Homo sapiens: one gene and its partners. The protein of the gene in region 1 purifies or fractionates together with the protein of each later gene. This does not show direct contact. Each region holds a gene or a part of one and is shown in the gene's direction. Other genes may lie near its edges. The genes, in order: AVIL, TMOD2, MYO1B, BRIP1, RIPK4, ALMS1 and MCM8.

Region 1 (4,292 bases):
ATTAGATACACACCTAACACAAGGACAGAGCTCACAAACATGGTGCTTAGCACACAAAGTAAGAAACAGACTAAGACATATAACAGAATGCCAATTTCTGTTTTAAAAAGCACACGCATGGCCAGGCATGGTGGCTTACGCCTGTAATCCCAGCACTTTGGGAGGCCGAGGCAGGCGGATCACGAGGTCAGGAGTTCAAGACCAGCCTGATCAACATGGTGAAACCCCGTCTCTACTAATAATACAAAAATTAGCCGGGCATGCTGGTGCACACCTGTAATCCCAGCTACTCGGGAGGCTGAGGCAGGAGAATCATTTGAACCCAGGAGGCGAAGGTTGCACTGAGCTGAGATCATGCCACTGCCCTCCAGCCCCGCAACACAGCAAGACACCATCTCAAACAAAACAAAACAAAACAAAAACATGCACACAAAACAACAGGATGGGTTGGGCGTGGTGGCTCACACCTGTAATCCCAGCACTTTGGGAGGCTGAGGCAAGAGGATAGCTTGAGCCCAAGAGTTCAAGATCAGCCTAGGCAACACAGTAAGACCCTCATCTCCACAAAAAATATTTTGTAAAAAAGCTAGCCAGGCATGGCGGTGCACTCCTATAGTCCTAGCTACTCCATGGGCTGAGGGTATTGAGCCCTCAATTATCGAGCCTGCAGTCCCTGATGAGGATCACTTGAGCCCGGGAGGTCAAGGCTGCAATGAGCCATGATTGCACTATTGAACTCTAGCCTGAGTGACAGAGTGAGACCCTGTCTTTAAAAAAAAAGGTGGGGGACACAGTTTACTAGAATGAAAATAAAAAGGTCAACAGTTAGAATGGAAGCGTATTGGGGAGAGGAATGGGAGTAGGACAGGCAGATAAAGGGAATGCACAGACACATAACACTAGAGAGGGAGCGAAGGCTGATGATAATGTTCCATCAACTGAGAAGTTTAACTCAAAACTTTGCCCCTGATATTAAAACAAAAAGAGGAATTCCAATGAGCTTGAGAATTGTGAGGCTGGGCCAAGATCAGCTTCTTGCAGGTCAGCAGTCTCCACTGACTGAGGCCCTTCTGGGCACAGAGGAGCACACTGAGCCACTGGGGAACCCAAGGACAGAGCCCCTCTGCTCCAGGGCTACCTTCCGCATTCCCTTAAAGTGCAGGACCCCTGGCTCGGAGGCTGGGCTGGGCTGAGTGCAGGGCGGGTGAGCTGATTCCTAGGGTAGGTGGTCTTAAGGCCGTGGAGTCATTAATGCTTCTGCTGCAGCACAACTTGTATCCCTCTCCCAGTAACACACTGGCATTCAGACAGTTCCTGGAACAAAACAAGCCCTCTGTGGTGCAGGGGTCTTTGTCACTGATGTCTCCTGGACACTGTTATAGTGCCTGGAGCACTATTCTTCTGGGTATTGGTTCATTTTCCTTGTAGTATCTCAGTTCAAATGTCATTTCTTCAGAGAAGACTGCCCCAACTCGCTACCAGAAAGTCACTCACCCAGTCTACTTGTGGGGCAGCAGCTGCCACCATCTGTATTTACCTTGCTGATGTACTGTCATCACATGAGTGAGGCTGCATCTGTGTAATTCACCACTGTCTCCCCAGAACCTAGCACATAGCAGGCACTCAAATAACTGAATGGATGTTCCCTTAGCTACAAGCAGGGGGGTGTCGCCTCTGGGATGAAGCACGTGGAGACCAATACCTACGACGTGAAGCGGCTGCTACATGTGAAAGGGAAAAGAAACATCAGGGCTACCGAGGTTAGTCCTGCACACTCTCTGCCCCAGGCCCGGGGCTTCTCCACCTGGCACCTAAGAATTCCTCCTGAACAATGTTTACCTCTCATCGACAGGTGGAAATGAGCTGGGACAGTTTCAACCGAGGTGATGTCTTCTTGCTGGACCTTGGGAAAGTCATCATCCAATGGAATGGCCCAGAGAGCAACAGTGGGGAGCGCCTGAAGGTATGGCTTCCTAGCCTTAGCACTTTCTCAAGTTCCTCTTTCTTCTTCCCTCCATGCTGGCTCTTCCCCAAGAATCAAGGTGGAGCCCTGCCTTTGAGTAGAATCTGTCTTGGAGACAGGCCAAGTGTGTGAGTTTGTGACTCACCCTGGACTCCTCAGCATCCAAGTAACTCCTGTGTCTGGGATCTAGGCTGTTCTCCCCAAAGACATCAGGCAGAAAGGGGTCCCAGAGGAGCTGAGGGCTTCCTTGGGCTTCTTTGACAGGCTATGCTTCTGGCAAAGGATATTCGAGACAGGGAGCGAGGGGGCCGTGCTAAAATAGGAGTGATCGAGGGAGACAAGGAGGCAGCCAGCCCAGAGCTGATGAAGGTCCTTCAGGACACCCTTGGCCGACGCTCCATTATCAAGCCTACAGTCCCTGATGAGATCATAGATCAGAAGCAGAAATCAACTATCATGTTGTATCAGTGAGTAGCTCAACCTGGTTTTAGCTGGAAGCTGGGGTTGGGGGGAAGGTGTCCCCTAGAACACCAGCCACCTCTGCTTGGCTCCTTGTTTTGGGTGTAGCCATCTGGTTTTCTTCTTAGTCCTTTTCAAATGCAGCTCCTAGAAAGCTTGGAGATCCCCCACTCAAGGAGGCAGTTCTTGTTAGCAACTCTCCTGATCTCTTGAGGAGACCTTTCCTTTACTCTAGCCTACACATGCCCAGGGATGTGGAAGGGATAATGTTTGGGAGAGAGATGAACAAAAGTCTCCACCAAAGAAAAGAGTCTGCACATTCCTGTCCTCACTCAAGTCATGGCTGTCTTAGGCAGTCACACTCTACCTAGAAACTCCAAACTAAAACCAAACCAGAACAACATCTAGTTGACTACAAGATGCTTTATAGAGGAAAAGGCACAGGCTAACCTCTCCCCTTCTCCAGTATCTCAGATTCAGCTGGGCAGCTGGCAGTCACAGAGGTAGCAACAAGGCCTCTGGTCCAGGACTTACTGAACCATGATGTAAGTAGAGTTTGGGTGGACTTAGCTTGGGGTAGCCAGACATGCTTCAGAAGCAGACCCTGTGCAAAATCTTCCTTCTGGTCTTGAGCAACCATACCTATCTCTGGCTGCTTTAGGACTGCTACATCCTGGACCAAAGTGGAACCAAAATCTACGTGTGGAAAGGAAAAGGAGCCACAAAGGCTGAAAAACAGGCAGCCATGTCTAAAGCGCTGGTAGGAGCTACAGATGTGCAATACTGTTCAAATAATTCTGCTAAGAGCACTTCAGGTGTGTCACTCCACAGAGCCATGCTAGGTATTTGAGCATATAACATTGTGCTTACGTACATGGACTGCAAAGTCAGGCAGACAAACTGGGATTCAAATCCAGGTTTTGTCTTTTCCAGCTGTGTGCTCTGGGGAAGACATACTTAACACCTGTGGGCCTCAGTTTCCCCATATCTAACATGGGGGTCATACCCATCTCCTAGGGTTATTGTGAGGATTAAATATCATTTGTAAAGCACTCAGGGCCGGGCGCAGTGGCTCACGCCTGTAATCCCAGCACTTTGGGAGGCCGAGGCAGGTGGATCACCTGAGGTAAGGAGTTCAAGACCAGCCTGCCAACATAGTGAAACCCTGTCTCTACTAAAGATACAAAAAAAATTATCCAGGCATGGTGGCGCATGCCGGTAGTCCAGGCTACCTGGCAGGGCACTGAGATAGGAAAATCACTTGAACCCGGGAGGCTGCAGTGAGCCGAGATCACGCCACGGCACTCCAGCCTAGGTGAGAGCGAGACTCTGTCTAAAAAAAAAAAAAGCACTCAGAACAGTTCTTGGCACACAGTACCTGCTGAATAAAAGGTGGCTGTTATTATTGAAGGGGATATCACATATCAAGGTTAATGGCCCTGTCCTCAAGGAGCTTATATTTGTGCAGATCCATGCAGATGAACCAAGCCAGAAGCAATAAATGAGCAAACAAATGTGATGCAAAGTCAGTAAGGACAAAAGTACTGAAAGAACACAGCATAATCATCCTAAAAATTAACAACCATAATCACCGCAAGCCAATAAACAGATCCAAAAATGTTCCACTCAGTCATTTTTTTTTTAGGCAGGTACCTTGGTCCTTAGACAAAAGTGAGTTAGAATTTGACTCTGACTCCCAGAGGGGAGACGCTTATATCATGTGGCTTCATAGAGGTGAATTACCAGACAAGCAAAGAACTCAGTGTATTCCACCACTGACCTGCCTTTGGGAATGGGTGGCTCTGCAGGGCTTCATCAAGATGAAGAGCTACCCCAGCAGCACCAATGTGGAGACCGTCAACGATGGTGC
Region 2 (4,292 bases), on another chromosome or scaffold:
TTCTTATGATTTGAACTCATAAAAAAAGATTGGCGTGCTCAGATCACTCCCCTACTTTAAGAAGCTGTGGTGGCTTGCCATTCCCAACAGAATAAAGTTCAGGTCCCTTAGCAAGGCGCAGAAGGAAGGCCCTTCACAGATGTCCCACCCTCGTCTTTAGTTCTTTCCTCTCCCTTCCTCCATGAATCCCCCTCTGTAGCCATGCCGCCTGCTCTACCAGCATATCATTTACTGTCTTATCCTGTACCCCTTTGTGCTGTTCCCTTTTCCTAGAATGACACTTGCCCATTCATGTCCACCTTATGACCTCCTCCTTCAATGTTCAAACACAGCCTCTTTTTCACAGTTTCCCCTCAAACTTCCCCCACTTACTCAGTGATTATTTCCCCATGTGTTTTCAAACCTACTTTTTACATTATGTCTAATACTTACGGCATTATTGCTGTTTGTGTGAGAGTCTCACTAAGCTGTGATCTTGGGGAGAGGGGGCATTTTGATAAATATAATTTTTTTTTTGAGAGAGTCTCACTCTGTCACCCAGGCTGGAGTGCAGTGATGCCATCTCAGCACTGCAACCTCTGCCTCCCGGGTTCAAGCAATTCTCCTGCCTCAGCCTCCCGACTAGCTGGGACTACAGGCACATGCCACCACACCCAGCTAATTTTTGTATTTTTAGTAGAGATGGGGTTTCACCATATTGGTCAGGCTGGTCTCAAACTCCTGACCTCAGGTGATCCACCTGCCTTGGCCTTCCAAAGTGCTGGGATTACAGGCGTGAGCCAACGTTCCTGGCCTCCTCATGTGTTTTTAAACCTACTTTATACGTTACGTCTAATACTTATGACATTATTGCTATTTGTGTGCCTGTCTCACTAAGCTGTGATCTTCTTGGGGAAAGGTGGCATATCTTGTTTATCTTTGTATTTCTGTTTGCTAGAACTATGCCTGGCAAATAGTAGGTATATAACAAATATTTATTGGCCTGAAAGATGTGATTGGTGGTAATACCTCCTAAGGAGAAACACAGTCAGTGAAGTACATTACTGTTTCCTGAATGAGTATTATCTTTCTAAGGAAGATCTGTAGAATCCTCTGCAAGGAGAAAGGGATTGAGTAAAAATTGCATTTTGGGTGAATATTTAGAAGTGAGGTGGTATAAAAAATAAGGGTCGAGAGAAGAACGGTCTGAGGGTATAAAGAATGAATACGTAGAACAAAAAGGAAATGGGACTAGAAATAGAATGGAAAACAAAGCAAGGAGAAAAATAGAGAGAGTGATCATGTGGCCAGGATTTTAGAATCGCACTTAGTTTAATTGCAGGGGAGTTACTGGACAATGCTTTCTCACATAGACGTTCCAAACTCTCGTTCCTGAATGAATCCCATTTTGTATTCTTCACATCACTCTCTCCCTGAAAAGACACAAGTATGCTTCTTACAACTGCCTTACAATTAGTGCATTGTTCTCCCCTGTTTTTCTATGGAGAGCCAGGGAAGGCAGAGTAGTATAAGGGAAAAGCACCCACTATGCTGGGAATCAGAAGGCGGGGCTCACGCATCCCAGCTCTGTGACCTCGAGCAAGGCACTAGGCCACTTTCACCTCAGAATTGTCATCTATAAAATGGGAATGATAATATCGTCACGGGCTTCCTCACAGGATTGTTGTAAAGATCAAAATAAGTGAAATATGTGAAAACACTTTGTAAGCTGTCAGGTTGCTCTGCAAATGAAGGGAATATTACCTTTTTGTTGAATTATTCATTCAATACAGTAGGCTCCATTGGAGGCATACTTCTGTCTCCTGTTAATAAGTCCTGTTTACAGAACGGAGATTCTTTTTTATTGTGTTTCTTTTTTATTAACAGTATTCTGAAGTCTCAGGAAACTGGACCATTTAAATGTGCATGGCCCATGAGAAAGGCTTATAAGAAGCCATGGCACTCCCCTTTCAAAAAGAGCTGGAGAAATACAAGAACATTGATGAAGATGAGCTTCTTGGCAAACTCTCAGAAGAGGAACTGAAACAGTTGGAAAATGTTCTAGATGACCTAGATCCTGAGGTTAGTGACATGGAACTGAAGCAGAGTGGTTAATGATAGTATGGATAAATGGCATGGCTTGGTCCTTAAACAATGGTAGAAATCCCTTAGCTCGGAATGCACATTTTCTTTTCTTCCTCTGATTGGTTCTGGGTCACCTGTGTTTACAAATTCATAGAGAACCTCATAGCCACTACAGTGTGATACAGCAAATGTATTTCTCAAAAACCAGCCCAATGTAAATGGGGGGAAATATTTTCCGTTGGTTGAGAAAGGACTAGTCTTGTTTAGGGGAAAAAGAAGGAAAGAGGAAAAGAGAGCAAATCTTACTGAGTTTTTTCTGAGTCATATATTTCTCTGGGCACAGAAGCCCTTGAGGTAAACTTTATTAACCCCTAGACATGGAGAGGTAATTTATATAAGATTCCACACTGGTAAGTGTCAGAGATGGTATTTAAACCAGGTTTTTAGGCCCAAATGCAGAATTTTTTTTTTTTTTGAGACAGTCTCACTCTGTCACCCAGGCTGGAGTGCCGTGGCAAGATCTCGGCTCACTGCAACCTCTGCCTCCCAGATTCAAGCGATTCTCCTACCTCAGCCTCCCAGGTAGCTGAAATTATAGACACATGCCACCATGCCTGGCTGATTTTTATATTTTTAGTAGAGACGGGGTTTCGCCAGGTTGGCCATGTTGGTCTCGAATTCCTGACCTCAGGTGATCTGCCCACCTCAGCCTCCCAAAGTACTGGGATTATAGGCCTAAGCCACCACACCCGGCCCCAAACGCAGATTTTTAAAAATATCTCATTTCTTTCAAATGCACAAATAATGTGAACTCTTTGATGAACTTATAACAAAGAATAGATTAGACTGACTATAATCATGATACCAAGTTCATTTCAATGGAGTTTCTAATGTTTTTATAAGTTCTTGAAAAGCTAAGTCGCTTGTTATATTGTTTGATTAGCAAGCACTTTCTTCAGACCTGCTGGTATGATCTTAAACTTAGAATTAGCAGTACTTTTATAAAAAAAGATATGCTGGAAATTGCTCCGTGTAATTTTTTAAATAAAAAGTCAATTACGGTTAAAAAAAAAAAATCGGAGCCATCCAAAATAGTGATTTTACCATAAATAAAAATATAACTAAAACAAAATTATGTATATGGTATTCTGATATGTCAGATACTTTGGATATGGTATTTACTTTTAAAAATACAGATATTCTGTTGTTGTTTTTTTAAATTAAGGAAGGAATCTGAAAGCTTTATCAAGCAGGCATTAACATCATCATAGTGTTTACTTATCAGCTTTACTGCTTCTGCAGGAGAGGGGTTCCCCATGTCAGCTCCTTGTTAGAGTCTCATGTTTCTGCCTGGGAGCACCTTGGGTGCAGCCCTAGCCAAACCTAAGCATGATCTACAAGGAAAGAGGTCTTTTGCCTCCATGTTTTAGGAGGCAGCTTCAGAAACTCAGAGGCTGCTCTAGCCATCTATGCGCTGCTTGAGCTCATTGGGAGCCCCCTCTCAGCACTGAACATTATAACAAATAGGGCCTCAGAGGCGTCCCAGAGCCCCCAGCCCTCAGCTCACACGCACATTCTGCGTAGGTATCCTTCCTGCTTCCCCAGCACATAGTGAGTGGGGGTGGAAGAGGAAGTAGCAAAGTACAGGCCGGCAGACATCTTCCTTCCTGCTCACACCTCTTTCTTGTCAGAGTGCCATGCTGCCAGCTGGATTTCGACAGAAAGACCAGACACAGAAGGCAGCCACCGGCCCCTTTGACCGCGAGCACCTCCTCATGTACCTGGAGAAGGAGGCTTTGGAACAGAAAGACAGAGAGGACTTTGTGCCCTTCACTGGAGAAAAGAAAGGTAAGGACCACAGGCAGAGCATCTTGGAACAGAGGTTCTCTCTTTTTTTTTTTTGGAACGGAGGCACTCTTAATTAAGATTACCTCTTTTTATTTTATTGTCGTGGAGGATCAAGCAAGGGAACTGTCCCAGACATGGGAAATAAGCCCATGAATTGGATTCAGTATTTATTTTATTGTCGTGGAGGGTCAAGCAAGGGAACTGTCCGGGAAATGGGAAATAAGCCCATGAACTGGATTCAGTATTTATTTTATTGTCGTGGAGGGTCAAGCAAGGGAACTGTCTGGGAAATGGGAAATAAGCCCATGAACTAGATTCAGTATTTATTTTATTGTCGTGGAGGGTCAAGCAAGGGAACTGTCCCGGAAATGGGAAATAAG
Region 3 (4,292 bases), on another chromosome or scaffold:
GTGAGGCAGATGTATATGAAACTAATCTGTACATGTGTATACTTACACATACACACATGTTCGTATAACATGATTTACAAAAAGGGTTAGGATGCAAGAGTCAGAGTGAGGGATCTGTCCCTGGATGGGGACAATAAGGGGTCAGTTCAGGGGGACTTCCTTGAGCTCTGAAGTTTCACCTGAGAATGGGAGATTCAGAACTTGGTGACAGAGATTGTGGAGCTCACTGTGTCTTTGCTGATCCTTCAGCAAAGGAAGTGAGATTGTTTCTAGCTTTTCTGTTTGGGGTGCTTCTCTGTCAACTAAAAGTCTTCATCCTTCAAATATTGCATCATTTGTGTATACTTCATTCATTCACTTACTCATGACCCACTCCTCGAGTGCCTGCAATGGGCAAGCGTCTGTCCTAGGAGCCGTGTGCTGGGCCACAGTTAAATCTGAGAGATCATGTGTGGCATTTCTCATGGATTGAGATGTCTGAGTGTCATTGTTTTGAGAGAGCTAGTGGCATGGTTTATAAAGCTGTTTTTCATTTTCTCCATACAGGACAACAGCTTTGAGCAGTTCATTATTAATTATTGTAACGAAAAGCTGCAACAAATCTTCATTGAACTTACTCTTAAAGAAGAGCAGGAGGAGTATATACGGGAGGTAATGTTGAAATGCTATTTTTAAAAGTGTTGGTCCTTTTTTACTCGTAATATAAATTCTAATTCAGAAGATAGCCTAAACAAGAAGCCATATTCAAAAGGCTACATACTGTATGATTCCATCTGTCATTCTAGAAGAGGCAAAGCTATAGAGACTGATTACCTATAAGAAGCTATAGAGTCAGGGATTGCCAGGAGATAGGAGTTGTGAGAGGGTTGTGGCTGCAAAGAGAATTTTGGGGACTGATAATGGTGGTGGTTGCTTGACATTATACATTTGCCAAAACTTAGAGAACTGTATACCAAAAAAGTCAGCATCACTGTAAGTAGATTTGAAAATATTTTGAGACTTTGTTCAATATCAAAAAGTATTGAGTATTCAAATTTATAGTAAAAATAGGTAACAGTTACTGAGTCCTTACTACATAGCAGGTATTATATTAAGTGCTATGTATAGATTATCTCATTTAATATAATCTTAAAATAACCAGAAGTAGTGTTTGCAGAGTCTTTTCATCATTAATTTAAAAATATATATTTGCTTTTCACCCTTTTATTTTTTAAAATAGCCAGTCTTTTTTCAAGTGTAAAATTAGTTATTTCAAAAAATAAAAAGGAATTGTTATGTTTATATTTTTATTTCCTTTTTTGTTTATTTGCCTTAATATTTTAGTAATGATATTACCTGTTTTCCTTTATTTTCTTAGTATCATTTTAAGCCATTAAGGACACTGAATTCTCTTTTATCTTTCTTTCCATATAGATTTTTCTAATGTGATTGTTATCCCCAGTGGCTTAGTAAAACAACCCATTTACTCAAAAGCTAAATCATAAATATTTCATCTTTATTTTAGAGTACTCATTATGCTTCAGAAATGTTTTATACTTGTCTGGCACCTTTTAGTAACATAAATATTCTAAAAGCACGATTCATTCTTTTCCTGTCTTCTCATCATGAAGAGAATGCCCAAACTTTGATGGGTAACTTAAAACAGTTTATACAGATTGTTTAAAACACTTCTAAGAATATATAGGAAGATTGCTAGCTTGCTGTAATGAATAGAAGACAAATAAATGTTTACATTTATGGACAGAATGTTAAGTAGACACAGAAAGATTACATTTGGCTTTATGGATTTGGCTTTGTAGCCAGTGTTAGAACCAGTGGATAGATTTTCATGTCTTTCCTTATGTTGAAAATACTTTGTGGTAGCGCTGGCCTGTTTTTTTTAACACTTGAAAGAGTTAACTTCCCTACAACACAAGATTGACTCTAAAATTAATTTTTTTCCTTATGATTACAGATTCAGAACAGAAGAATCTAGGCTTTAAATTCTTGGGATCAAGTTCTAACTTATTTCCTTATAAACATTGTAAACATACACAACGTAATATTGACCCAAGGGCCTGTTGAGTAAATATTTGGCCCAGGGCCAGTGAAGTGCATGGGAAATTGCTGCAGATGGGAGAGTGGAATGGAAGGCAGTCTCAGAACAGGTCAAGGGTGTTTGCTTCAATCAGATTATGTCAGTGGTAGGCAGCTGCATTGAGAAAGTTTTGGGAACTGCCTGTGACATTTGCAGTACCCATTCTATAAAGAAAATAAATTCAGAGAGGAAGGGAAATATGATAAGATGGTCAAAGTCTGTTTTATGGATGGTAGTGTCGTGGCTTCATCTTGTGTCATTGGATTTTGTTCTGTTTTGTCTTTTAGGATATAGAATGGACTCACATTGACTACTTCAATAATGCTATCATTTGTGACCTAATAGAAAATGTGAGTACTTAGGTACAGTTTTCTAAAGAATGTTTTAGTCCTATAATTCACCCTTATAAATGTTCTCAGTGCCTCAATGTTAAGCATTAGTATTTTCACTGTTTTTTATATATATATATATATATATATATACACACACACATATATATGTGTATATATATATATATACACGTACACACACACACACACACACACACACACACACATATATATATATGTTAAGGAACTGCAGAGTTCTAGAGATTTTATTGTAGCCCTAAGAGATCATACACAGTTCTTGAACACATACATAGACAGCTGGATGTTTTGATACTTAGCCAGGATCCCCAGTGGCCATATCACAACACCCTTTTATGACCTTCAGACACCAGGCCTTAAAGGTACCAGCCTTTCTTGTATGGTTGGAGCCCAGGTCTATTCCATGACTCCTGGGCATGTGAGTACTGATCAGAGTAGGCTCTGAGCAGCCATCCAGTTTTTTGCCAAATCAAAATATCCATTTCATTCCCAAAACTCTAATGACCTCTTAACATACTATTCACCGGGTATTATATTAAGTTTAAGTGACATAAAGGGACAACCTCTGGAGCTGAATTAAGTGGGACCCCAGAAGTGGCTTAAGTGCAGCTGTAGCATTGATTCAGATCATACATGCAGAGGGCATTGCATGTGTGACTGCAGGTGGCCAGGGACCTGGAATTTTTCGGATGACCCAAGTATGTGCATATGCAAAAAGGCTTAAAGTGTGAAAAATTATTGGATAATTTCGAGTAAGCTTTCTGAGTCCAAGATTTTTGTTTTTAGATCATATTCCGTAGTTTATTGTAAATGAATTAAATGTAGGAAGACTGATTTTGTGTGTGGAAAACAGGAAACTAATTTATGCTTAGGATTACTAATACCTGACTTTGAATAAGTAATTTGAAACAGTGTATAAGCCTTATTATCCTGCAGTCTTTTTAGCAAGACCAGTTTAGTGAGATGAGTGCTGTGTTTCAGGAATACAGTCACATGCTCTGAATGAATATTAAATCATTTTCTACTCATCTTTTACAAAGCTTTTTGGGAAATATGTAATTAGCCAGTATTTTTTTTCCTCAGTATTCAAGATATTCCTAAAAGTTGTTTCTCTGATTAAATTAAACAATATTCTAAGGCATCACTATTTTTCAATAAGAAATAAACTGTGTTTCAAAAAATCTGAACAATATTGAATGGGAACACTAATATTCCACATAAGCAATTCAGATCTCTGATTTTGGCTCTGAAAAGTGAATTTCCTGAAAATTTTCCTGGTACATTTTGTGAAGGAGGTAATTTGCTATGGGAATCTTAATTTTCAGAATTTCTGATTAGTATGTTTTCTTTGATAAATATAACCTTGCATTTAATTATTCTCTTTTAAGAAGAGGAGAAAAAGAACAGTGGTAATACACTTAATTTAACTAGATTATCTCAGCCAAAAATCCCCTTGCTATATGATTGAAGAAGCTCATGTTCACATAGGAACCTGGGTATATAAAGGAAATGTTTCCTTCCAGCATCATTAAACAATAATGTTTGTTCTGGGGATGTTATGAACACACTTGATTCCTGAGAGTCCACGCTTCCCCAGGGTTTTGTGTGGAATGAATAAATGCTGGTCAGAGGATGTCGTGGCCTTGTTAGCAGAAGGGGAGAGGAACAGAGGACTTTGCCTGGGTGGAAGTAGGTGGGGTTGATGGTCAGTGGAGTGGATTGTTTTTGGAATTAAGACTTATGACCCCATAGGGGCAGTCCATGGAGTAGCAGTCTTTATTTAGCAAAGTAGAAGCTTCCTGACTTCTGATTCAGTTTAGGGCTGACTACTCTTGGAATAAAAATGA
Region 4 (4,292 bases), on another chromosome or scaffold:
GAAATCCTTTTCGTCAGAACTTGGTGTTACATTTACTATCCAGCTGGAGGCTAATCATATCATTAAAAATTCACAGGTTAGTTGTTGTTTTTTTTTTTGGAAGGCCTTCAGTGTTTCTACTTCAATATAACTATGTAAACAAGTTAGAAGATACCTGAAGTGCCAGCAAGTAAATCTTGGTAGGAAATTCAACATTCCAGTTTTACAATAAAAGAAAATCTGTCAGCTACTTAATGATGTGTCAACAGAAGGAAATAATCCAGTCACTTGGGATGCAAAAGGCTGTATTTCAGCTTCTTCTTCTAAGTAAGTTTTAGTTTTGTAATGAAAACAAAATTTTGATTTCTTTAATTCTCATTGTATAATTATGTTTTATTTATTGATTGATTGATTTTTGAGACAGAGTCTGGCTCTGTTGCCCAGGCTGGAGTGCAGTGGTGTGATCTTGGCTCACTCGTGTTTAAGCAATTCTCCTGCTTCAGCCTCTCAAGTTGCTGAGATTACAGGTGTGCGCCGCACGCCTGGCTAATTTTTTATTTTTTTGGTAGAGATGGGGTTTCAGCATGTTGTCCATTCTGGTCTTGAACTCCTGCCCTCAAATGATGCACTTGCCTCAGCCTCCCAAAGTGTTGGGATTACAGGCGTGAGCCACTGTGCCCAGCCTATTTATATTTTATTTATTTTATCTCTGTATTTTTATTTTTACTTTTATTTTTTGAGACAAGGTTTTGCTCTGTCACCCAGACTGGAGTGCAGTGGTGCGATCTTGGCTCACTGCAGCCTTCGCCTCCTGGGTTCCAGCGGTTCTCCTGCCTCAACCTTCTGAGTAGCTGGGATTATGGGTGTATGCCACCATGCCTGGCACATTTTTGTATTTTTAGTAGAGACGGGGTTTTGCCATTTTGGCCAGACTTTATCTTTTTAGAGACAAGGTCGCTTGCTATGTTGCCCAGGCTGGCTTCAAACTCCCAGGCTCAGGCAGTCCACCTGCCTCAGCCTCCTGAGTAGCTGGGACTACAGGCATGTACTACCATGCCCAGCTTGTATAATTATTTATGCTTCTCTTTTCCATTAGACTACAGTGTATCCTGATTCTTCCTTTTACATCCACGTTCTTCCTCTGTGCCTAGATTAATAGCTGGTATTTAGCAAGTGTTCAGCATGTTTGAATATCTGAAATGAGTTAAAAGTACTCTTATGAGTCCTATGATTTAAGATTTTAATGTTTTATAACGATGGCTACTAAATGTTATTTTAATTTTTGTGGAAATGTATAGATTGTTATTTTTCATTATGCCTTCTGGTTTCTTTTTATGAAATATTTTAAAGTGGTTAGGCACACAGGTGATGTTAAGCTGTGGTTAATGCTAAAGTGGTTAAGTTAACATCACCTGTGTGCCTAACACAATGCTAGCTCTTTATTAAGCTATATACACAGGTTTATAGGTGGGAACATTTTTGGTCCTCACAATTACTTGGGAGCAACTACGGCATTTGGTAGTTGGGAACCTAGAATGCTACTCCTATGTAACTAAGAATTGTGCTTTCCAAATGCCAGAGTGTTCCTGCTGAGAAATGTGACTATGAACAGCAGTGAAGGAAGAATACATGTTCCACGTTTTCAAGTTGCTTTCTTTAGAGACACAGATAAATATGGGAAGTTGGTAAATTCAGCATACGTTTTCTCATAAGAATGTTATTACAGGCTCTATGTTCTCAGCCTACTGCACAAAAGTCCATTTAACCTATAATGTCGCTGAATTATAATAATGTAGTTGTGCAGCTGGATTCTGTTACACTGTAATATTTTCCTTCAACTTAAAATTTAAAAAACTTTTAATTGTGGTAGAATATATATAAAATTTACCATCTTAACCATTTTTGAGTATACAGCTCAGTCTTATTAAGTATGTATATGTTGTTGTGCAACCAATCTCAAGACTTTCTCCTCTTGAAAAACTGAAACTCTGTTCCCATTAAACAACAGCTCTCTATTCTCCCCCTCTCCTCAGCTCCTGGTAACTACCATTCTGCTTTCTGTTTCTATGAATCTGATTACTATAAATACTTCATATAAGTGGAATCATAAAATATTTGTCGTTTTTGTGACTGGCTTATTTTACTTAGTAATGTCCTCAAGGTTTGTCCATGTTGCAGATAATGTCTTCAAAGTTCATCATCTATGTTGTAGCATGTGCCAGAGTTTCCTCTTTAAAGGTGAATAATGTTTCTTGTGTGTATATGCCTGTGATTTATAATATATATATTTGGTCTTCCACTCCATTTCCTGGCATACAACTCCTAAAATCCTTAGAATCTCCAAAGTGACATTTTGTATGCTAATGAGATGACTAATGGTAGGGGGCTCCTAGGTAGCATCAGGATCAGGGCTGGCCTCCGGGAAGACCAAGACATGATAGGAGAGTTGGGATTTTCACCCCCATTCCTCAACCTCTGGGGAGGGCTTGGGGGAGATGATGCTAAAGGTTAAGTTTATCTTAATGGCCAGTGGTTTAATCAATCATGCCTACATAATGAAGCCTCCATAAAAACCTAGAAGGACAGGGTTCAGAGAGCTTCCAGATAGCTGAACACTTGGAGGTTCCTGAACACTTGGAGGGTGATGTGCCTGGGAATTGAAGCTCTGAGCCCCTTCCCACATACATCTCTTTATCTGTATCCTTTGTAATATTTTTTCTAATAAATCAGTAAGTGTAGGTAAATGTGTCCCTGGGTTCTGTGAGCAGCTCTACCAAATTAATTGAACCCAAGCAGAGGGTTGTGGGATGCCCGATTTCTAGCTGATCAGTCAGAAGTGCAAGTAAAAACAACTGTGACTGGCCACAGAAATCAGGGGCAGTCTTGGGGACTGAGCCCTCAACCTCTGGGATCTGAAGTTATCATCTCCCAGTAGATAGTATCAGAATTGAATTGAATTAGAGGACACCCAGTTGATGTCTGTTGCAGAATTGATTGCTTGGTATGTGGAAAAAACCTCCCACACATTTGGTCACAGAAGTTTTCTGTGTTGATTGCTGTGGTGTGAGAGCAAAGGAAAAAGTTTGTTTTTTTCTACTCAATGCTACATTTTGATCATTCATTCATTGATTCTTTCAACTGTATTTCAAAAAATTAGAAATTTCAGAAAAGTTGGAAAGATAATATTAATATTGTGAATATCTTTATATCCTTCACCTAGATTCATCACTTGTTAACATTTTGCAAAATTTTCGTCTCTCTCCCTCTCTCTACATATAAGGGAGATAGAATTGCAAATAACTGTAAGATGTGGTGGGTGTGATTTTTTTCTATGACTAAGGATCTTTGAGCACCAATGAATTTTTGAAAGAGTAGTTCCTGTCATTTTTGAGACTTGCCTATGGCAAATTATACTGGCCTTCATCCCCAGTATTTTGGAATTATCTGATTCTGCTATTGGTATATATTCATCATTTCACTTGTTCATTTATTCACCTAACAAAAATTTGTTACATGCTTAAATTTTGCAAAGCTATTAAGTAAACAGAGACAGGTACAACCTGTTTTGCTTTCAAAGAATTTTCACTCTAAGAGAATTTAGTGATCTGCCTAAAGCAAAACATTTATAAATTAAATCTGTATACAGTTAATTGAAGGTAATAGAAAACCCCCTGACAATTTAAAAATAAATTGTTAAACTTGTTGCTTGATCTTTTATGTACATACTTCCAAATAAATACTAATTTCCATGCCTTTTTCAGGCATAACTCTAATAATGACATATTCATATTCTAGGTTTGGGTTGGTACCATTGGGTCAGGCCCCAAGGGTCGGAATCTCTGTGCTACCTTCCAGAATACTGAAACATTTGAGTTCCAAGATGAAGTGGGAGCACTTTTGTTATCTGTGTGCCAGACTGTGAGCCAAGGAATTTTGTGTTTCTTGCCATCTTACAAGGTAAGGGAATATTTATTGTTTCTTTTGCCTTTAAATAATCATTTACATTTTAAACATTGGCATGCTAATTTTAAAATTACCACAGTAAGCTTCCTAGGGTAGAGGCAACAAGGTAATAACTATAGTTTTCTAAACATCACATATTATTTTACTTATTTTTTGATTAAGATACTGCCTGATTGTCCTACCTCTGTTTTACTTAAAAGTCTGAAAGAGCAAGGCTGGACGTGGTGGCTCATGCTTGTAATCCCAGCAGGTTGGGAGGCTGAGCTGGGAGGATCACTTGAGCCCAGGAGTTCGAGACCAGCCTGGAGAACATGGTGAAACTCTGCCTCTACAAAATACAAAAATTAGCT
Region 5 (4,292 bases), on another chromosome or scaffold:
ATACTAGTTGGAATCAATTTCAACTTAAAAATGAAATAACTTGGTTTAAAATCTCAGGCTGCATTTATATGTCCAGTTAGCCCAAAACAGACGCTTTTCAAAGGGTCACACGCGGGTCACGTTCTGCTGTGTCTTTCTTTTAGAGGCAGCAAAACCCCGGCAGGCTGCTTTCTTAGTCTTGACAGCTGGACCTTGAAGTTGAAGGGCCATGTGCTTGGGGGCAGCTGTGAGCCCTCAGCTCTTGGAGATGCAGAGTCGGGTGCTGATGAGAGTGTTTGTAACTCTTGAAGCATTTGCTGGTCAGAGTGGATGCCACAGTAGCTCGCTGTTGAGGACACGGGGTGAGGGGCAGCTTGGGTGGGAAGATGAGGAAAGGCGGAGGGGAAATGCAGCCGGCCAGGAGTCCGAGACATGGAGGGAGGAGAACATAGAGGGTCAGTGACCCTCCTAGAATTCTCAATTCCGAGCTTGCATTTTGTTGCCAGAGGTTTTACAGAGAATTTCTGCTCGTTTTCTTTTCACCAAGTATAGTTTGGAGTGGCTGGCTCTATCTGACAAAGACAGGAGGAGAAAAGGCTGCAGGCCTGGGGAAGCACCAGGCTGAGATCTCTGCACCCCTGTCGTTTTTCTTTTCTTTTCTTTTCTTTCTTAATGATCTCAGATGTCATTTAATTTTCACAACAAAGCTACAGGATGGGTACTGCTATTGCCTCCTTTTATGAAAAAAGGAAACAGGCACAGAGAGGCTAATAGTCCAGGGCCACGGAGCTACTAACTTGTACAGGCAAGATTAGAACAGTGAGTCTGATCCTTAACTAACCGTGGGAGGGAGATATTTTTTTCCTACATTCAACCATACAGGGGGAGGAGGAATTGCCTAGAAAGTATGTGATGCTTTCTTTATTTTTATTATTATTTTTTATTTTACTTTTAGTTCCGGGATACATGTGCAGAATGTGCCAGTTTGTTACATAGGTTTATATGTGCCATGGTGGTTTGCTGCACCCATCCACCATCTAGGTTATCACCTAGGTTTTAAGACCCGCATGCATTAGGTGTTTGTCCTAATGCTCTCCCTTCCCTCTTCCCCTACGCACCGACAGGGCCCGGCGTGTGATGTTCCCCTCCCTCTGTCCATGTGTTCTCATTGTTCAGCCCATTTCTGAATTTGAAGGCTTTCAAGCCACTGATGACTGTTGAACTGAAACTTCCTGTGCTCTGGAGCTATTTGGAGAGTTAGGACCCGTTGTTGTGTCCCAGCGTCCAGCAGCCGCCGGGGTTTGCAGGGTCGGGTGATGGCGTTCCTCTGGGGAGCTGGCGCTTTCCCTGGAGTGCAGAGTGTGGCTCTCAAGGGCGGTGCAGGCCTGAAGGCCCTGGGAGAAATGGAAGTGGGAGGACATGAGAGCCGCTGGAGTCGAGGCCTTGTCCTGGTGCTCCTGGCTGCAGAGAAGGAGGGCCGGTCCCTGCTCGCAGGCCTTCCCCCCTACCTCCCTGCAGATGTGCTCAGGATCCCTGGAAGCCCGAGTCACAGGTCATAAATTCTCCCAGCTGTTTGGTGCTGATGACAGCAGCCCTATTGGCTCACCACATGGGCATGGCCAGCCCAGAATTAAGGCCTGACTCAGCCTCATTTCCTGTCACTCCATGGGTGTGTTTGAGAGGAGCTCAAGAGTTAATGAAAAGGGTTTTTAAAAAAATCCATATGCCTTGAAGGAAAGTTGAGAGCAGCACTCCCCCTGGATCAAGAGTCCCATTAATGCTGATGACTTGTGTCTTCATCCCACATACGGTTTTCAGCAGCTTCAAAGGGGACTGAGTTACACTGGAGAGGGTAGGACACTGGCAGGAAAGGGGATGCCCCCGAGAGAGGTCAGACCGGGGGTCTGTGAAGTCTCCCCAGTGAGCTCCAAGGTCACCTTTGCCCGAAGGAGACCTGAGACCTGCCTCCCCTGAATGCGGACGTTGAGGGCATTCCTGGAGGAGCTGGGTGGCCGGTGCTCCTTGGGGCCCGGGCGCTGCCAGCAGAGGTGTTTATCAGACCTTCACTCGAACACATGTGTTTGAAGCAGCCAGCCAGTGTCTGCTGATCACAAAACACTCCAGATGGACGGGGCTCTGAGGCGTGTGTTTTGTTTGCTTTAAAGTTTAAAGGGCTTCTGAAGGTGTGTTTCTGTGTTTCCCTTTAAAGGACTTGCAGCCACTTGCCCGCCAGCCTCCCCAGCTGGCAGGTTGCATAACCTGCTCCCCGACTTCTCTAGGAGCAGACCTGGTCTTCACATGTGTCTCTCTTTACCTGAACCCTCGAAGGCTTGTTTTTTTCCCTTTATGCCGGCTCAGCCGGCTCTCAACCACCATGGCAAACATGATGCTTTACAGAAGGTGGATTCTAATTCTTCTGCAGTTCTGTCCCGGATAACTCCTTCCTTACAGTACGATTCTTTCACCTGCCCGTCAAATGTGCTGCTCCTAATGCCTCCAGGCTTGCTTCTGCCCCAGAATCTGTCTCCCTCCCTGCCTGGGGCAGGGCTACCTGGAGAGGCACAGACACGGCTCTTAGGGGCTCCTGGAAAGCTCTCACCCACCCTCTGAGATTGCAGAAGGGAGCTTTTGATAAAGCATCATAAAATATCACTGTTGCAGGCTAATGAGCCCCGCTCTGATGGCTGTGTTGCAGATTTCTGATTTTGGTCTGGCCAAGTGCAACGGGCTGTCCCACTCGCATGACCTCAGCATGGATGGCCTGTTTGGCACAATCGCCTACCTCCCTCCAGAGCGCATCAGGGAGAAGAGCCGGCTCTTCGACACCAAGCACGATGTATACAGGTGTGTGACATGCCGCCCCCCATCCCCTGTGGGTGCCAGGGGCTCTCAACCTCAATGCTTCATGCCCTGAGCTGCAGCTTTCAGAAAGGCCTCTTGCTGCCAGTCAGAAATGGGGCTCGGGCCAGGCGCGGTGACTCACGCCTGTAATCCCAGCACTGCGGGAGGCCGAGGCAGGAGGATTACTTGAGCCCAGGAGTTTGAGACCAGCCTGGGCAACATGGTGAAACCTCATCTCTACAAAAAATACAAAAATTAGCCCAGCTTGGTGGCGTGCACCTGTAGTCCCAGCTACTCGGGACTGAGGTTGGGGGATTGCTTGAGCCCGGGAGGTGGAGATTGCAGTAAGTCATGATTGCACCACTGCATTCCAGCCTGGGCAACAGAGCGCGACCCTGTCTAAAAAACAAACAAACAGAAAGGGGGCTAAGTCCACATAGAAGGGGTGGGTGCTTGTAGAGTTCAGGGATTTCTTTGCTGTGAGTGTTGCTAGCCAAGGAGGAAGGGTGTTCCCAGGTCCACATTTGGGCCAGGCTGACAGCCCTGCCCTGTCAGAGCCTTGGTGATTTCATGACCCGTGGGCTTTATGGCTTGTCTGTTGGAAGAACCTGCTGCTTTCAGTGGTCTGTACGCATGTGTGTTTGTACTTTCCGAAATTCACTCTGATTTTGTGAGGCGAGCAGCTCATCTTCTTCATGGCACTTAACCTTTGTTGGTCAGAGATCAATCCCCAAGTCACCTAGTCCCTTCCTTTTTCAAATTGTAAAGGTCTTAATCACACAGACTTCTTGGAGAAGAAAAGTGGGTGGGAGCGTGTGAGCAGGCACTAAGCCTCCCATTGTGGCTGTTATCCAGCAGCACTGTGACTCGGACCCCGCATGTGAGCTCTGCCTTTTGGTCACTGCCGCCGCCAGCAGCCCAGGCTGACTGGTTTGACAGTGGCCATTGTGCATGTGCTTAGCTGGGGCTTTAAGCTGAGAGTTGCCTGGAAGTGTCACTTTGGAGACTAGTCACAGCTTGTAGAGTTTGGGGAGATTGAGATCCTCTCCATTTATTTTAGAGTTTGGAGTTCCAGCTTTTGAACCTGCCGTTTGAACTAATTTTCGATGGTGAATTCGTTGTCTATAAACAGCCCTCACCAACTCAGTGCTCCTTGGAGGCTCAGTTTTCGGACTTCTGTTTTTCTTTTCTTTTTTTTTTTTTTTTTTTTAATCAATTTGGGCACTTTTTTTGGTGTATCCAGAGTAATGTACATGAACGTATCCCTCATATTATCTATATATTTCTAAGCAGCCCCCGAAAAAGGCTTTGGGGCGTTCAGCTGTGTTGTCTCCTACGTTTTCTGCGCACTTTCTTTAACAACCCTCTAATGATGAACTCTCAGTGAGCCTCTGTTAGGAACGCTGAAATCTCAGCAAGCCTACGTTAGGAACGCTGATCAGAACCAGAATCCGTGTTTTCAGAGAATGAAA
Region 6 (4,292 bases), on another chromosome or scaffold:
TCTACCAGCAGACCCTATCAGACAGTCATTTACCTGAAGAAGCTCTGAAAGTTCCACCTGTTCCTGGACCAGATGCCCAGAAGACTGAGACACCATCAGTATCCTCTAGTTTATACTCATATAGAGAGAAGCCCATTGTCTTCTACCAACAGGCCCTGCCAGACAGTGAGCTAACTCAAGAAGCTCTGAAAGTTTCAGCTGTTCCTCAACCAGCTGACCAGAAGACTGGGTTATCTACTGTAACTTCCTCTTTCTATTCACATACAGAGAAGCCTAATATTTCTTACCAGCAAGAGTTGCCAGATAGTCATCTAACTGAAGAGGCTCTGAAAGTTTCAAATGTTCCTGGACCAGCTGACCAGAAGACTGGGGTATCAACAGTAACCTCTACTTCCTACTCACACAGAGAGAAGCCCATTGTTTCCTACCAGCGAGAGTTGCCGCATTTTACTGAAGCAGGTTTGAAAATTTTAAGAGTTCCTGGACCAGCTGACCAGAAGACTGGAATAAACATCCTGCCCTCTAATTCCTACCCACAGAGAGAGCACTCTGTCATTTCTTATGAGCAGGAGTTGCCAGATCTTACTGAAGTAACTTTGAAAGCAATAGGGGTTCCTGGGCCTGCTGACCAGAAGACTGGGATACAAATAGCATCCTCTAGTTCCTACTCAAATAGAGAGAAGGCCAGTATTTTTCATCAGCAGGAGTTGCCAGATGTTACTGAAGAAGCTTTAAATGTTTTTGTTGTTCCTGGACAAGGTGACCGGAAGACTGAGATACCAACAGTACCTTTAAGTTACTACTCACGTAGAGAGAAGCCCAGTGTTATCTCTCAACAGGAGTTGCCAGACAGTCATCTCACAGAAGAGGCTCTGAAAGTTTCACCTGTTTCTATACCAGCAGAGCAGAAGACTGGGATACCAATAGGACTGTCTAGTTCCTACTCACATTCACATAAAGAGAAACTCAAGATTTCAACTGTGCATATACCAGATGACCAGAAAACTGAGTTTCCAGCAGCTACCCTTAGTTCCTACTCACAAATAGAGAAGCCCAAGATTTCAACTGTGATTGGACCAAATGACCAGAAGACTCCATCCCAGACAGCTTTTCATAGTTCCTATTCTCAAACAGTAAAGCCCAATATTTTATTTCAACAGCAGTTGCCAGATAGAGATCAAAGTAAAGGTATTCTAAAGATTTCAGCTGTCCCTGAACTAACTGATGTGAATACTGGAAAACCAGTATCTCTCTCTAGTTCTTATTTTCACAGAGAGAAATCGAATATTTTCAGTCCACAGGAATTGCCAGGTAGTCATGTAACTGAAGATGTGCTGAAGGTTTCAACAATTCCTGGACCAGCTGGCCAGAAAACAGTATTACCAACAGCTCTTCCTAGTTCCTTTTCACATCGAGAGAAACCAGATATTTTCTATCAAAAGGATTTGCCAGATAGACATCTAACTGAAGATGCTCTAAAGATCTCAAGTGCTCTTGGGCAAGCTGATCAAATTACCGGATTACAAACAGTTCCCTCTGGTACTTACTCACATGGTGAGAATCACAAGCTTGTTTCAGAACATGTCCAAAGGCTAATAGATAATTTGAATTCTTCTGACTCCAGTGTTAGCTCAAATAATGTGCTTTTAAATTCTCAGGCTGATGACAGAGTTGTAATAAATAAACCAGAATCTGCAGGTTTTAGAGATGTTGGCTCTGAAGAAATCCAGGATGCAGAAAATAGTGCTAAAACTCTTAAGGAAATTCGGACACTTTTGATGGAGGCAGAAAATATGGCACTGAAACGATGCAATTTTCCTGCTCCCCTTGCCCGTTTCAGAGATATTAGTGATATTTCATTTATACAATCTAAGAAGGTGGTTTGCTTCAAAGAACCCTCTTCCACGGGTGTATCTAATGGTGATTTGCTTCACAGACAGCCATTCACAGAGGAAAGCCCAAGCAGCAGGTGCATACAGAAGGATATTGGCACACAGACGAATTTGAAATGCCGGAGAGGCATTGAAAATTGGGAGTTTATTAGTTCAACTACAGTTAGAAGTCCTCTACAGGAAGCAGAGAGCAAAGTCAGTATGGCATTAGAAGAAACTCTTAGGCAATATCAAGCAGCCAAATCTGTAATGAGGTCTGAACCTGAAGGGTGTAGTGGAACCATTGGGAATAAAATTATTATCCCTATGATGACTGTCATAAAAAGTGATTCAAGTAGTGATGCCAGTGATGGAAATGGTTCCTGCTCGTGGGACAGTAATTTACCAGAGTCTTTGGAATCAGTTTCTGATGTTCTTCTAAACTTCTTTCCATATGTTTCACCCAAGACAAGTATAACAGATAGCAGGGAGGAAGAGGGTGTGTCAGAGAGTGAGGATGGTGGTGGTAGCAGTGTAGATTCACTGGCTGCACATGTGAAAAACCTTCTGCAATGTGAATCCTCACTGAATCATGCTAAAGAAATACTCAGAAATGCAGAGGAAGAGGAAAGCCGGGTACGAGCACATGGTAAGAAGAAAGTTTCAGGCTTATAAACGTTATAGTTTAATAATGTGTTTAAAGTTAGATATTTATGTTTTGAGGAAGCTTAGCCAATGAAAAATACAAGCAAGATCAAGAAAAAAAATGAAGTTAGATATTTGGAGTTCTAAATGTATTTTCCAATAGAATTGTTAGAATGACTATATTTCTTCTAACAATCCATAAAAAGCCTATTTAACCAATAATGTAGTTAAGTTACAGTATTAATAGTACCAGCCTGAGTTTACGTTCTTGTTCTTAGGAGAAGTAGATTCTGATGTATGACAGAGAGTAAAGAGGTCGCTTGGGCTCCTGAGCTCCTAAAGCTATCACGTTTCTCTAATCCTCCCATTATAGTATCCTTATTCTGAAGGCAGAAAGAGCCTCCAATTTGCTGTGCTCTAAATTGCTTTTTGTCCTAAAACTACATATATTTTCTCTTTCCCTTTTCTAATAGAACTCTTGGTGTTGATCTCAGACATTTGAAAAAAAAATCAATGTATTTTATACTAAAACTTGGGTTAGAGGTTTAAAAGAGAATATTTACAAATCTCATTAATTTCTAATAGAATTCCATTAAAAACAAAAATCTGTAAGACAATATGGGGAATATATTTTGGGAGGCAATTTAAAAGCAATTTAGGCCTACCTAGAAATCGTCCCTTGAGGTTAACTTCCTACGCTGTTCCCTGCACATTTTTATTCTACAAAAAAACCTCCAAGTTGTATTTATTACTTTTAAATATCAGCTGTCATGGAATTATGAGTAATTGTAGCAGGAACTAAAGGGAGAGGTAAAGAAACTCATGATTAAAAGGAGGATTAAGATAAATATGATTGATTACCCGATTTAAAGTGGCTTTTTTGTAGAATTATCTATAGAGCATGACTTAAGAAAATCAGACTTTGCAGTGAAAGGATCTCTGTCAAGAATTTCTAATAGGTTGTCATAATTGAGAAGAAGACATACTAAGCATTGCAGTGGGTATTAAATTGCATATATTGATGATCTTCTGTGTTGCAATTGTTGACAAATTATCACTTTTGCATTGTATTATCTCAAGTGTATGCTTTCTCTCCAGCCTGGAATATGAAGTTCAATTTAGCACATGATTGTGGATACTCCATTTCAGAATTAAATGAAGATGACAGGAGGAAAGTAGAAGAGATCAAGGCAGAGTTATTTGGTCATGGAAGAACAACTGACTTGTCCAAGGTATAAAAGAAATCTGGAAATGAAGAAAGTAAATATGAAAGAATGGGTGATGGAATTAGGATCTCTTACTTGGGCATCAGTTGAGTTGCTGATAATATTTGGCTAAAGCCTTTTTTGGTTTTGTTTTTGAGACAGTCTTGCTCTGTTGCCCAGGCTGAAGTGCAGCAGTGCAATCACAGGTCACTGCAGCCCTGAACTCTTAGACTCAAGGAATCCTCCCACCTCAGCCTCTCAGGTAGCTGGGACCACATGTGTGTACCGCCCTGCTCGGCTAATTTTTAAATTTTTGGCAGAGACAGGGTCTCTACGTTGCCCAGGCTGGTCTTGAACGCTTGGATTCAAGCGATCCTCTTGCCTTGGCCTCCCAAAATGCTGGGATTACAGGCATGAGCCACTGTGCCTAGGCAGGCATCTTAATTTTTCAAAAGTTAAGATATAAGTATTAGATTCTTACAGTCTAGATATGTTGTTTTTATTGATTCCAAATTCATATTTTGAAAAATTTATCTTCTTAGAAAAATAAGAACTGATTTGCTTGTTTTAT
Region 7 (4,292 bases), on another chromosome or scaffold:
TAAAATTGACAAATGTAAATGTACTGTTTTATATTCTTTCTCTTAATTTTTTTTAGAGACAGGGTCTTGCTGTGTTGCCCAGGCTGGATTGCCGTGGCACAATCAGAGCTCACTGTAGCTTCAAACTCCTGGCCTTAAGTTATTCTCCCACCTCAGCCTCACAAGTAGCTAGGACTAAAGGTGTATGCCACCATGGCTGGCTAATTTTTAATTTTTTTTTTTATAGATATCGGGGTCTCACTTTGTTGCACAGGCTAGTTTTGAACTTTTGGGCTGAAGCAGTTCTTCCACCTTGGCCTCCCAGAGTGCTTGCTGGGATTACAGGCATGAACCTGTAAACCAAAAATAAAATTCCAAGGCCCCCCACCCATTTAAACAGACTTCCTTCTCAGCCAGGGCTCTTAAGATTTAACCTGAAAGACTGATTCAGGCCACAAAGGGAAGTGGGGGTCAGACATGCCTTATTATACCTCTCTGGCATTAACATCAACACAGATTTTAAGTCTAATAAGAAACATTTTACAGCCTGTTCTCTCTGAAACCTGTTAGCCAAAGCTTCATCTGCATGATAAAACTTTGGTCTCTACAACCTCTTGCATCCCAAACATTCCTTTCTATTGATCCCAGGTCTTTAGACAAACTCAACCAATTGTCAACCAGAAAATGTTTAGATTTACCTGTAGGCTGGAAGCCCATGCTTTGAGTTATCCCACCTTTCTGGACTTTCTGGTTCTACAAATCACTGCACCTGGCCTCATTTTCTTATTTAATTTGACCTTTTGACTTGAACTGAAAAAAATGAAATTTTATCCCATCTTAGAGTATTATATACTGAGTTCACTTCTCAGTCTCCTTTCAGTGACTTGGCTGCACAGTCTCAAGATGTCTGTTCACATAAAATACAATATAATCCCGTATCCTAAAATGGAAGACCATGATTGTGACGCATTTTAAGGCTAGTTGTGTAAGAAGAGCAACATTGTATTTAGTTACTTTAAGATGCTTTGCAAGTATCCTCTGTTCCTTATGCAGAGTTTTTAAAAAATTCTAACCTTTATAGATTAACCAAGAACTTTGAGAAATGTACTGTAAGAATAAAATTTCAGTTGAGGGGATGTAAATTTTTTACATTTGTCTTTGTTGATATTAAGCAGGTTAAACAAATTGTAGAGGAGATCTCCTAATGGATCAATGAAGTATAAATTAGAATTTATAAGTTGTGTTCTGTTTTTCAGCTCGCTTTGCCCTGTCATTTTTGGTCATGAAGTAAGTATTTTACTTCATCTTTACTCAAAAAGTATATAAGGTTAGCAAAAATAACATATAAAAACTTTACAGAAAGTAGCAAATTTCTATTGGCCAGTTATTTATATCTTAATATGCTTTGTAAATTAATGATATGGGAGGCAAGCAAACTATAGCTTTTTTTTTTTTAATTTTTTTAATTTTTTGAGACAGGGTTTTGCTCTGTCACCCAGGCTAGAGTGTGATGGCACAGTCATGGCTCACTGCAACCTCCAGCTTTGGGGCTCAGGTCATCCTCCTGACCTCAGCCTCCTGAGTAGCTGGAACTACAGGCATGCACCACCATGTGCAGCTAATTTTTTTGTATTTTTTGTAGAGATGGGGTTTTGCCATGTTGCCCACGCTGGTCTGTAAGTCCTGGCCTCAAGTGATCCACCCAATTTAGCCTCCAAAGTGCTGGGATTATAGGTGTCAGCCGTATAGCTCCTTTTAAGAAAAAACTTTTACCAACTAGAGTAAATATGAATGGGCTTTTATTTTATTTATTTATTTTTTTGAGATGGAGTCTTGCTCTGTCGCCCAGGCTAGAGTACAGTGGTGCGATCTCAGCTCACTGCAACCTCCACCTCCCAAGTTCAAACAGTTCTCCCACCTCAGCCTGCCGAGTAGCTGGGACTACAGGCATGCGCCACCAGACCCAGCTACTTTTGGTAAGAAATGGGCTTTTAAAGTGACTAGACACTGCCAGTATTAAAGCAAAAACAAATATTTCTCGTTTTTGTGGAATGGATTTATGCCTTGCAAGGTAGCTCTTAGTAATTTCTAAGATAGCTCTGATTTTATATGTTTTCAAGTTTTTACTTTTTAATCATTTACGTGATAGAAGTTTGTTTTTAGACTTCCTTTTCTTAGAAAAAAATTATCATGCTTTTAAAACAATCCCCAAACAAATTAATATTATAGAAGGAGGAATACCCCCTTTACTAGTCACCTTTATGTTTTCCTTACTTCTGTTTTTTGTTCTTTTTTCGCACTTGAGCTTGTTAAAGCAGGTTTGGCATTAGCACTCTTTGGAGGAAGCCAGAAATACGCAGATGACAAAAACAGAATTCCAATTCGGGGAGACCCCCACATCCTTGTTGTTGGAGATCCAGGCCTAGGAAAAAGTCAAATGCTACAGGTAGACAATCAGTCATTTAGTGTTTGTTCTTTTGCTTGTAAAATGCGTTAATAATTCACAAGTGAATTTTCTCAAAGCATGTAGTGTGTGTGTTCCAGAGGACATGGTTAGGTGGCGTAAATGAATTGGAATTTGTGTGAGTAATATGTAACTTATATCTGACCATATTTTTAAATTGAGCCAGTCTCCTGTTACAGAGGCTGTACAAACATCTTGGTCTGTTGAGACATCAACTATTAGGAAATATTAACCATTTCTCTAACCATTGTTTTGCTAGTCTTTGTTGTTGTTAGTTGTTATGTGACCTCACCTATGAACAGAATAGTTCAGGGGAGTTAAAGCAGGGTCACCTATTCTCCCTCATACAAGTACATAAACACTGTATTGGGCTTTAAGAACAGTCTGCTAAAGGTGTGGGATCTGTCTGTATATATCTCCACTGCTTGTGAGTCCAAATCAAGGCAACCTTTTTTTTTGAGACGGAGTCACACTCTGTTGCCCAGGCTGGAGTGCAGTGGCATGATCTGGGCTCACTGCAACCTCTGCCTCCCACTTTTAAGCAATCCCTGTGCCTCAGCCTCCTGAGTAGCTGGGATTATAGGTGCGCACCACCACGCCCAGCTAATTTTTGTATTTTTAGTAGAGACAGGGTTTTGCTGTGTTGGCCAGGCTGGTCTTGAACTCTTGGCCTCAAGTGATCCACCCACCTTAACCTCCCAAAGTGCTGGGATTACCGGTGTGAGCCACCACGCTCTGTCCAAAGCAAGGCAACTGCTGTGATCAGTCATTTGTAGATCCCCAAGAAAATTCTGCCTCTGCCAGTCAGAGCCTAGTGGTTTTCCTTTCCTGGGTTTTATGATGGCTTTAGAAGGTGCTGCTTATTGGTATGCTTGTAGTTTCCTTAAAGTGACAACCGGTAAGCCAGCCGTAATGTGCTTTCTACTTTATTTTTTTGAGACAAGGTCTTCCTCTTTTGCCCAGACTGAAGTACAGTGGCGCAACTTTGGCTTACTGCAGCTTCCACCTTGGGCTCAGGCAATTCTTCCAACTCAGCCTCTCAAGTAGCTGGGACTATAGACATGTGCCACCATGCCTGGCTAATGCTTTTTTTGTAGAGATGGGGTTTTGCCATGTTGCCCAGGCTGGTCTCGAACTCCTGGGCTCAAGCAGATCCACCTGCCTTAGCCTTCCAAAGTGCTGGGATTAAAGGTGTGAACCACTGTGCTTGGCCACTGTGCTTTCTAAAAATGCCTGTGGCCCCCTTCTTCACTCGATGTGGAAAATTGACCAGGGCTTCTCTGGCCCTTTAGTAAGTTGTAGTAGTATGGCTCCTAAATCTTTTTCCAAGGATTGGGATCCTGGCTGCACATCTTAATTACTTTTGGAGCTCTTTGAAAATACCATAGCCCACTGCAAGCCAATTGAGTTAAGAGTTTCTAAGTTAGGGTCCTAGTGTCTATATGTGTACAACAGTCCACAGATGATTCTAATATGCAGCCAGCCTTGAGAACTGCTTTGATCTTGTCATTACATTATAAACCCACTGTCCTTCATATCTGAGTCATCCTTTATTGCCTGTGGTTGAGTGTTAAACCAGTCATTTTAATTCCTAGATATTATTATAATTCCATAGATATTTCATCTATGTTTGGTTCCTTTTGGCCATCTGGGGCTACTTTTTAAAAAATAAATTCTGTTCTGAGACCTCGCTACAATGTAGCCTGACAACAGAGGCTCAGGGTACCCCTTACAGGTGAAACAAAGCTCATCATGAACAGGAATCTGGGTGCAGTGGCTTACGCCTGTAATCCTAACACTTTGGGAGGCCAAGTCGGAAGGATTACTTGAGGCCTGGAGTTCAAGACCA

What was found.
Region 2: the proteins of AVIL (region 1) and TMOD2 purify together in Homo sapiens (affinity purification with mass spectrometry; 2 studies listed by BioGRID and IntAct, with this or other methods). This does not show direct contact.
Region 3: the proteins of AVIL (region 1) and MYO1B purify together in Homo sapiens (affinity purification with mass spectrometry; 2 studies listed by BioGRID and IntAct, with this or other methods). This does not show direct contact.
Region 4: the proteins of AVIL (region 1) and BRIP1 purify together in Homo sapiens (affinity purification with mass spectrometry; 2 studies listed by BioGRID and IntAct, with this or other methods). This does not show direct contact.
Region 5: the proteins of AVIL (region 1) and RIPK4 purify together in Homo sapiens (affinity purification with mass spectrometry, with the first as the bait; 2 studies listed by BioGRID). This does not show direct contact.
Region 6: the proteins of AVIL (region 1) and ALMS1 purify together in Homo sapiens (affinity purification with mass spectrometry; 2 studies listed by BioGRID and IntAct, with this or other methods). This does not show direct contact.
Region 7: the proteins of AVIL (region 1) and MCM8 purify together in Homo sapiens (affinity purification with mass spectrometry; one large-scale study listed by BioGRID and IntAct). This does not show direct contact.

What each region holds. Positions count from the first base shown.
Region 1 is NC_000012.12:57,808,487-57,812,778, reverse strand, and holds part of AVIL (advillin), read left to right. Parts: intron 1-1,651; coding exon 1,652-1,760; intron 1,761-1,852; coding exon 1,853-1,963; intron 1,964-2,227; coding exon 2,228-2,430; intron 2,431-2,888; coding exon 2,889-2,967; intron 2,968-3,053; exon of another isoform or gene 3,054-3,083; coding exon 3,084-3,182; exon of another isoform or gene 3,183-3,195; coding exon of another isoform or gene 3,196-3,237; intron 3,238-4,230; coding exon 4,231-4,292.
Region 2 is NC_000015.10:51,764,507-51,768,798, forward strand, and holds part of TMOD2 (tropomodulin-2), read left to right. Parts: intron 1-1,866; 5' UTR 1,867-1,935; coding exon 1,936-2,061; intron 2,062-3,755; coding exon 3,756-3,912; intron 3,913-4,292. UniProt on the Homo sapiens protein: Blocks the elongation and depolymerization of the actin filaments at the pointed end. The Tmod/TM complex contributes to the formation of the short actin protofilament, which in turn defines the geometry of the membrane skeleton.
Region 3 is NC_000002.12:191,380,916-191,385,207, forward strand, and holds part of MYO1B (unconventional myosin-Ib), read left to right. Parts: intron 1-546; coding exon 547-651; intron 652-2,364; coding exon 2,365-2,427; intron 2,428-4,292. UniProt on the Homo sapiens protein: Motor protein that may participate in process critical to neuronal development and function such as cell migration, neurite outgrowth and vesicular transport.
Region 4 is NC_000017.11:61,776,045-61,780,336, reverse strand, and holds part of BRIP1 (Fanconi anemia group J protein), read left to right. Parts: coding exon 1-76; intron 77-1,558; coding exon of another isoform or gene 1,559-1,597; exon of another isoform or gene 1,598-2,091; intron 2,092-2,157; coding exon of another isoform or gene 2,158-2,217; intron 2,218-3,774; coding exon 3,775-3,936; intron 3,937-4,292. UniProt on the Homo sapiens protein: DNA-dependent ATPase and 5'-3' DNA helicase required for the maintenance of chromosomal stability. Acts late in the Fanconi anemia pathway, after FANCD2 ubiquitination.
Region 5 is NC_000021.9:41,749,628-41,753,919, reverse strand, and holds part of RIPK4 (receptor-interacting serine/threonine-protein kinase 4), read left to right. Parts: intron 1-2,674; coding exon 2,675-2,823; intron 2,824-4,292.
Region 6 is NC_000002.12:73,451,548-73,455,839, forward strand, and holds part of ALMS1 (centrosome-associated protein ALMS1), read left to right. Parts: coding exon 1-2,520; intron 2,521-3,614; coding exon 3,615-3,748; intron 3,749-4,292. UniProt on the Homo sapiens protein: Involved in PCM1-dependent intracellular transport. Required, directly or indirectly, for the localization of NCAPD2 to the proximal ends of centrioles.
Region 7 is NC_000020.11:5,970,772-5,975,063, forward strand, and holds part of MCM8 (DNA helicase MCM8), read left to right. Parts: intron 1-1,235; coding exon 1,236-1,266; intron 1,267-1,804; coding exon of another isoform or gene 1,805-1,955; intron 1,956-2,284; coding exon 2,285-2,425; intron 2,426-4,292. UniProt on the Homo sapiens protein: Component of the MCM8-MCM9 complex, a complex involved in the repair of double-stranded DNA breaks (DBSs) and DNA interstrand cross-links (ICLs) by homologous recombination (HR).